Homo sapiens: one gene and its partner. The protein of the gene in region 1 interacts with the protein of each later gene in a biochemical or structural test. Each region holds a gene or a part of one and is shown in the gene's direction. Other genes may lie near its edges.

What was found.
Region 2: the proteins of CLCN1 (region 1) and FKBP8 form a complex in vitro, tested with the Homo sapiens proteins (one study listed by BioGRID).

The regions. Positions count from the first base shown.
Region 1 is NC_000007.14:143,347,111-143,350,166, forward strand, and holds part of CLCN1 (chloride channel protein 1), read left to right. Parts: intron 1-3,056. UniProt on the Homo sapiens protein: Voltage-gated chloride channel involved in skeletal muscle excitability.
Region 2 is NC_000019.10:18,536,993-18,540,812, reverse strand, and holds part of FKBP8 (peptidyl-prolyl cis-trans isomerase FKBP8), read left to right. Parts: intron 1-1,092; coding exon 1,093-1,262; intron 1,263-1,353; coding exon 1,354-1,442; intron 1,443-2,376; coding exon 2,377-2,597; intron 2,598-3,039; coding exon 3,040-3,212; intron 3,213-3,820. UniProt on the Homo sapiens protein: Constitutively inactive PPiase, which becomes active when bound to calmodulin and calcium. Seems to act as a chaperone for BCL2, targets it to the mitochondria and modulates its phosphorylation state.

The DNA.
Region 1 (3,056 bases):
GAGTGTGTGATGGGACATGGAGGTGTTCTCAGAAGGACACGTCATTTCAGAAGAGAAAAACTTTGAGCCTCCATGAGTAAATGGGGCCATGGTGCTAAGATGAGCCCCAGATCTTTTAGAGATTATGGGCTTTCTGGATCAGGCAAAGCTTTAATGGAGGTAAAATGGCACCAGGAGGCTGGCACTAAAACAGCAACATAGAAGAAGAACATCAAAACTAAAATGGGAGGCCGGGCATGGTGGCTCATGCCTGTAATTCCAGCACTTTGGGAGGCCAAGGCAGGCAGATCACCTGAGGTCAGGAGTTTGAGACCAGCCTGGCCAACGTGGTGAAACTCCATTTCTACTAAAAATACAAAAATAAGCCGGGCATGGTGGCACGCACCTGTAATCCCAGATATTTGGGAGGCTGAGGCACGAAAATCACTTGAACCCGGGAGGTGGGGGTTGCAGTGAGCAGAGACTGCACCACTGCACTCCAGCCTGGGTGACAGATCCAGACTTTGCCTCAAAAAAAAAAAAAAAAAAAAAAACTAAAATGGAGAAATCTGCTCCTGGTGGAGATTACTGTGCTGGATTGATCAGGGCCCTGAGACAGTGAACAACTGGAAAATGCTAGGCATTGCTACTGGGAAGAACTGAAAAAGGAAGAAAATAATGACCACGGTGCCTCCTGGGGACAAACAAATGCCTATTTTCCTAAACGAGGTGGTTATCAAATCTTCAAGAGAGAAAAATCAAGCATTCTGAATGTGCTTGGTTGTCAGGAGGGAACAGAATGTGGACTAGTGATTGGAAGCAGGCGGTATCAGAACATACCGAGGGGTTGTGGAGGAACATCAACAGAAAAATCCATTGGCAACTATTCCATATGGTAAAAGAATGCAGAGTTTGCTGCAAACGCCGAAAACGTAAAGCTTGTAAAGTATGAAGCTGACAAAAAAAACACGGCAGATATTATTTTTAAATGAACATCTTATTGGATATCCAGAATAAATATGTGCTGACAATGAAAAGCATTACAGGATTGGAGGAGGATGTTGTGAGTGACAAGACAGAAGAGAAACCTTCCCCACCCCCTCAAAACACACACACTTCTGATAAATGACTTGTGAAAAAGTCAAATCGATGATCACAGAGGGAAAGGAAGAACTATTCCTTCTGCCCACAAGCAGGAATCAGAAAGGCCATAATTGCAGTTAAGGAGTACTTTGTTAGGTTGCTAAAACCAATAACAATAAGTTTTGCTTTTTTTCTTTTTTTTAATTTAATGCACCAAAGAGAGAAAACCAGCTAGTTGATCAGTGTGGCTATTGAATGACCACTGGAAATAAAGTGAAGCCAGGGATTAAAAATAAGATAGACTATCATTTCTAGCTTATGTCTTTCCCAGGGAAGACTTTAAGGAGCTACCAACTCCCATGTGACCCACTGAGACATTTTAGAGGGATAAGATCTAACAGGAGTTGAAATTCAGGATGTTTTGAACACAATTTTCAGACCAGATGATACCCTTGACAATATCAAGATGTTGATATTGACCAAAAAAACAGTATGGGGGCAGTATGGGAATATTGAAAGATTCAATTATATGTTGCCAGAAGTCCCTACTAGGATTTGTTTAATTCTGCATACTCTGGAGTACACACAGAGCTCTGTTTCTAACCGGTACCGAGCTTATTCAAGTAGTGGAACACACCAGCCTCAACAGCAACGTCCTGCATCCCTTGCGCAAAAGCTGGAGATGTACCTGGAATACAAACAGCAGTCAAGGTTAGAAGCCCAGCTCCACCAATTACTGACTGTGTAATCCTGGGCAAATGACTTCAACATGCTGTGCCTCTGTTTCCTCATCTATAAAGTGAAGATAATGATAGAGTTATTAGAGAAGATTAAATGAGCTAAGACGGGTAAGTCAATTAGAATAATGCTTGGCAAAGAGGATGTACTTGATAATCATTCACTGAAAATGTTGCCGCGTTATTGTTAAGGAAAGGCAAAAACGGAACATAAGGCCACAGATGATCATAGAAAAGACCAAGAGGACGGGATGGACCAAACCATGGTTGGCAAGGTCTAGCCCCCGTCCTATACCTAAATCTTCTCTACAACACACCTGCTAAGTGGTCATCCATCCTATGCTATGTAACCTCTGTAATCCATTAGTCCGGAAGATGAGAGTATAGAGGAGTCATGATTGTAATCCAGAAATATCAGGACAGGACAGGTGGAGTGAGCATCACTACGGGCTACACACCAGATCCTAAACCTATATAATGCCCTTTGGTGATATTCTCTGAAGTTTGAGAGGTGTAGATTTGGACAAATAGGAAAATAGAGTTCTAGATCATTCAGAGGATACTGACTGAAAAGAGATTTTAGAAATTTTAGAAAAATGTAAGAGAGCCAGAGATGTAATGGATTATTTGGACTCTTGGGAATTTTGGTGTGCGTATCTAAAGTCAAGAGGATGGTTGGCCTTTGTGCCTTAATGCTTCTGTCATAGACAAAAACAAACAAACAAAAACTGGCTTTGCTCAAGTCAGCTAAGTGCCATGAGGTCCAGTATAGCTCTTCAATTTCAACAAGTACCCACTACAGTTCCCTGCATGAGAGGTGATGTGCTAGTTTCTTCACAATATACAGCAGCCGATACCACATAACACTCAAGACAAATGCAGAGGTAAGACAGATGCCAATACAGCAGGAAGTATGGCCAATGTCATTTCTGAAAAGGTGAGACCAGCTAATACTATGGGAATAAAAAAGGGGAGAAGCACATCTGATTGGGAGAGTCAGGAAATACGTACACTGCAGGGAGAGGGTAGGGCAGGTAAAGGAACTCCAGATGGTCAGAATAGCAAAGACAAAGGGGAAGGCATGTTTGAAGAGCAGAAAGCAGTCTGGTTTGATTGGAGCCCCACGTCTTATAGTAGTAGTGGAAAATAGATGGGAAAGATAGGTTGGGAATAACAAATGTTTGGGACGCCAGGGGATAGGAGAGTTGGAGCCTAGAAGAGGGAGGGGTGTTCTGGGTACCTGGGGGTTGCAGGGTA
Region 2 (3,820 bases), on another chromosome or scaffold:
GCAACCTCCGCCTCCCAGGTTCAAGCGATTCTTCTGCCTCAGCCTCCTGAGTAGCTGGGACTACAGGTGCCCACCTCTATGCCTGGCTGATTTTTGTATTTTTAGTAGAGACAGGGTTTCACCACATTGGCCAGGCTGGTCTCGAACTCCTGACCTCAGGTGATCCACCTGCCTTGGCCTCCTAAAGTGCTGAGATTACAGGTGTGAGCCAGCACACCTGGCCCCTAATTTTTGTATTTTTAGTGGAGACAGGGTCTCACCATGTTGACCAGGCTGGTCTCAAACTCCTAACCTCAAGTGATCCTCCTGCCTCAGCCTTCCAAAGTGCTGGGGTTACAGGTGTGAGCCACCATGCCTGGTCATTTTTTATTTTTTGTAGAGATGGGGTCTCACTATGTTGCCCAGGCTGGTCTCAAACTCCTGGGTTTAAACAGTCCTCTCATTTCAGCCTCCCAAAGTTCTGGGATTACAGGCATGAGCCACCATGTGTGTCCTTTGCTTAACTTATAAATTCATCCCACTTGGTGCTGTGGTGGGGACACTGTGTCACAGGGGCTCTGCTAACCAAAGGTCCCATGAGCACCTCATTTCATGGCTGGGTAAACCGAGGCCCAAACATCTCAGGGCAAGGATTTCAGCCTGAGGGCTGTTTGTCCTCTCTGAGCTTTGGTTTTCTTTCTTTTTGAGGAGGGTGGGGAGACTGGGTTCTTGCCATTTTGCCCAGACGCTGGGCTGAACTTGTGATTCTCCCACATTGGCCTCTCAAATAGATGGAAACTCGGCAAGTCTCAGTTTTCTTAAAAAAAAAAAACAAAAAAACAAAAAAACCAGACCAACCATTGTTCACTGAGCTGGTCTCTAGCACCAGCACTGTCACCCTGAAGTCTGTCCCATCCTGCCCAGTGTCCTGCACGTGGGGTTCCCCACTCTGGTGGCAGAGTGGCCATTGGAAGTTTGGTTTGTGCCCCAGTGTTGGGCCAGCCCCCTCTGGACAGCTAGTGGGCAGAGCTGAGGGTAGGAGTGGGGGCTCAGGGGAGCGGGTGCCTGTTTGAGCTGCCAGGTGACAGGCTGCATGTCCCTGGACCCTGGCAGGGAACGGGCTGTTGAGGAAGAAGACGCTGGTCCCAGGGCCGCCAGGTTCGAGCCGCCCGGTCAAGGGCCAGGTGGTCACCGTACATCTGCAGACGTCGCTGGAGAATGGCACACGGGTGCAGGAGGAGCCGGAGCTGGTGTTCACTCTGGGTGACTGTGACGTCATCCAGGTGCGGGCTGGGGCGGGACAGGGCAGGGGCGAGGGGCGTGCCTTGCTGGGTCTGAGTCTGCCTGACAGCTGGCTATCCCCACACACCCCAGGCCCTGGATCTCAGTGTCCCACTCATGGACGTGGGGGAGACGGCCATGGTCACTGCTGACTCCAAGTACTGCTACGGCCCCCAAGGCAGGTGAGAGTCAGCCACCCTTAGGTCTCTGCAGGTCTCAGGAGGGGGATGGGTGGAGTGGGTGTACCCCTCGGCTCACCCCATCTACTTGCCCATTTTATAGACAAGAAACTGAGGCTGGGTGAGGTGGCTCACACCTGAAATCCCAGCACTTTGGGAGGTTGAGGTAGGAGGATTGCTTGAGACCTGGAGTTCCAGACCAGCCTAAGCAATATAGACCGCATCTCTATACAAAAAAATTTAAAAATTAGCTGGGTGTGGGCCGGGCGTGGTGGCTTACGCCTGTAATCCCAGCACTTTGGGAGGCCAAGGCGGGTGGATCATGAGGTCAGGAGATCAAGGCCATCCTGGCTAGCACGGTGAAACCCCGTCTCTACTAAAAATACAAAAAATTAGCCAGGCGTGGTGGTGGGTGCCTGTAGTCCCAGCTACTCTGGAGGTTGAGGCAGGAAAATGGCGTGAACCCGGGAGGCGGAGCTTGCAGTGAACCGAGATTGCACCACTGCACTCCAGCCTGGGCAAGAGAGCAAGACTGTCTCAAAAAAAAAAAAAAAAAAAAAAAAAAGCTGGGTGTGGTGCACACCTGTAGTCCCAGCTACTGAGGAGGCTCAGGCAGGAGGATCACTTGAGCCCACGTTTTTGAGGCTGCAGTGAGCCAAGATTGCACCACTGCACTCCAGCCCGGGCAACAGAGTGAGAACCTGTCTCTTAATAAAAAGGAGGAAAACCGAGGCTTAGGGAGGGGAACTCGTTCGTCAAGTCCCGCAGCTCCAAGGCGGCAAGTCACTTCCCCTGCACTTTACTGAGGAGGGAATGATGGAGGGCAGAGGGGAGACAGATCGGGGGCTTGAGCCAAGCTCACTCCTTCCTAGCCAGCCCAGCGGGTTTAGGGGTCACCAGGTCTGAGTGCTGCCCCTGCCTGCTCCCACCCAACTAGCAGGAGCCCATACATCCCCCCGCACGCGGCCCTGTGCCTGGAGGTGACCCTGAAGACGGCTGTGGACGGGCCTGACCTGGAGATGCTCACGGGGCAGGAGCGCGTGGCCCTGGCCAACCGGAAGCGGGAGTGCGGCAACGCCCACTACCAGCGGGCGGACTTCGTCCTGGCCGCCAACTCCTACGACCTCGCCATCAAGGCTATCACCTCCAGCGCCAAAGGTGACCGCCTGGGTCAGATCTCCACCATCTCCCCTGCAAAGGTGTCCACTCCGTGCCAGAAACTTCCAGCCCCAGAGAGCCTCAGACTCAGAATATTCTAGAATAGCCCAGAATATGGGTAGATCCCCAACTGCCCCTAAGCTAGGGCCTGTTACAGACTCGTGGTATATCCCAGACCAGTGGAGTGTTGTAGAATGCAAGTGGATATGGGGATGGGGTGACCATAGACAGGGCCAGTTCACATGTACCACAGGCTAGGCCCTCGCTTGCTTAAGTCTCCATCTTGTAGCTTCCTCAGGAGAGCCCCAGGAAAGCGTGGCCCTTGGTCCGGGGTTAAAATTGGGGAAACTGAGGCCAGAGAGGCAGCCTCCGCAGAGGGGTGGGTGCCGGGGTGTCTGGTGGCATGGTGACGGCTGCCGTGGCGGGCACTGTCTCCCAATAGTGGACATGACGTTCGAGGAGGAGGCACAGCTCCTGCAGTTGAAGGTGAAGTGTCTGAACAACCTGGCGGCCTCGCAGCTGAAGCTCGACCACTACCGCGCAGCCCTGCGCTCCTGCAGCCTTGTGCTGGAGCACCAGCCAGACAACATCAAGGCTCTCTTCCGCAAGGGCAAGGTAGGCCACACCGGGGTGCCAGGCCGGGTCACTCAGCCTGGGGTATACGGGGTGGTCCCCAACCCTGCATTTGAGAAAGGCATAGGTATATAAGCCAGCTGAGCTCTGTGGGGTGCAGGTGGAGAAACTGAGGCCCAGACGGGTGCAGGAGTGTGGCCTGGTCACAACAATTCATTGGCTGAGGCCAGAATTTGATCCTCGAGTCTTGGGTCCCCAACCTTTGGCCCAGTGTTTTTTGTTTGTTTGTTTGTTTGTTTCTTGAGACAGAGTCTCACTCTGTCACCCAGGCTGGAGTGCAGTGGTGTGATCTCAGCTCACCACCGCAACCTCCTCCTCCTGGGTTCAAGCGATTGTCCTGCCTCAACCTCCCAAGTAGCTGGGACTACAGGTGCGAGCCACCACACCCAGTTAATTTTTGTATTTTTAGTAGAGATGTGGTTAGCCATATTGGCCAGGCTGGTCTCGAACTCCTGACCTCAAGTGATCTGCCCGCCTCAGTCTCCCCATGTGCTGAGATTACAGGCCTGAGCCACCGTGCCCGGCTTGGCCCAGTGTTGAAACCTCCTCCCATAGAACCTCCATGGGTCCCAGTTTTCCTCAGAGTAAAG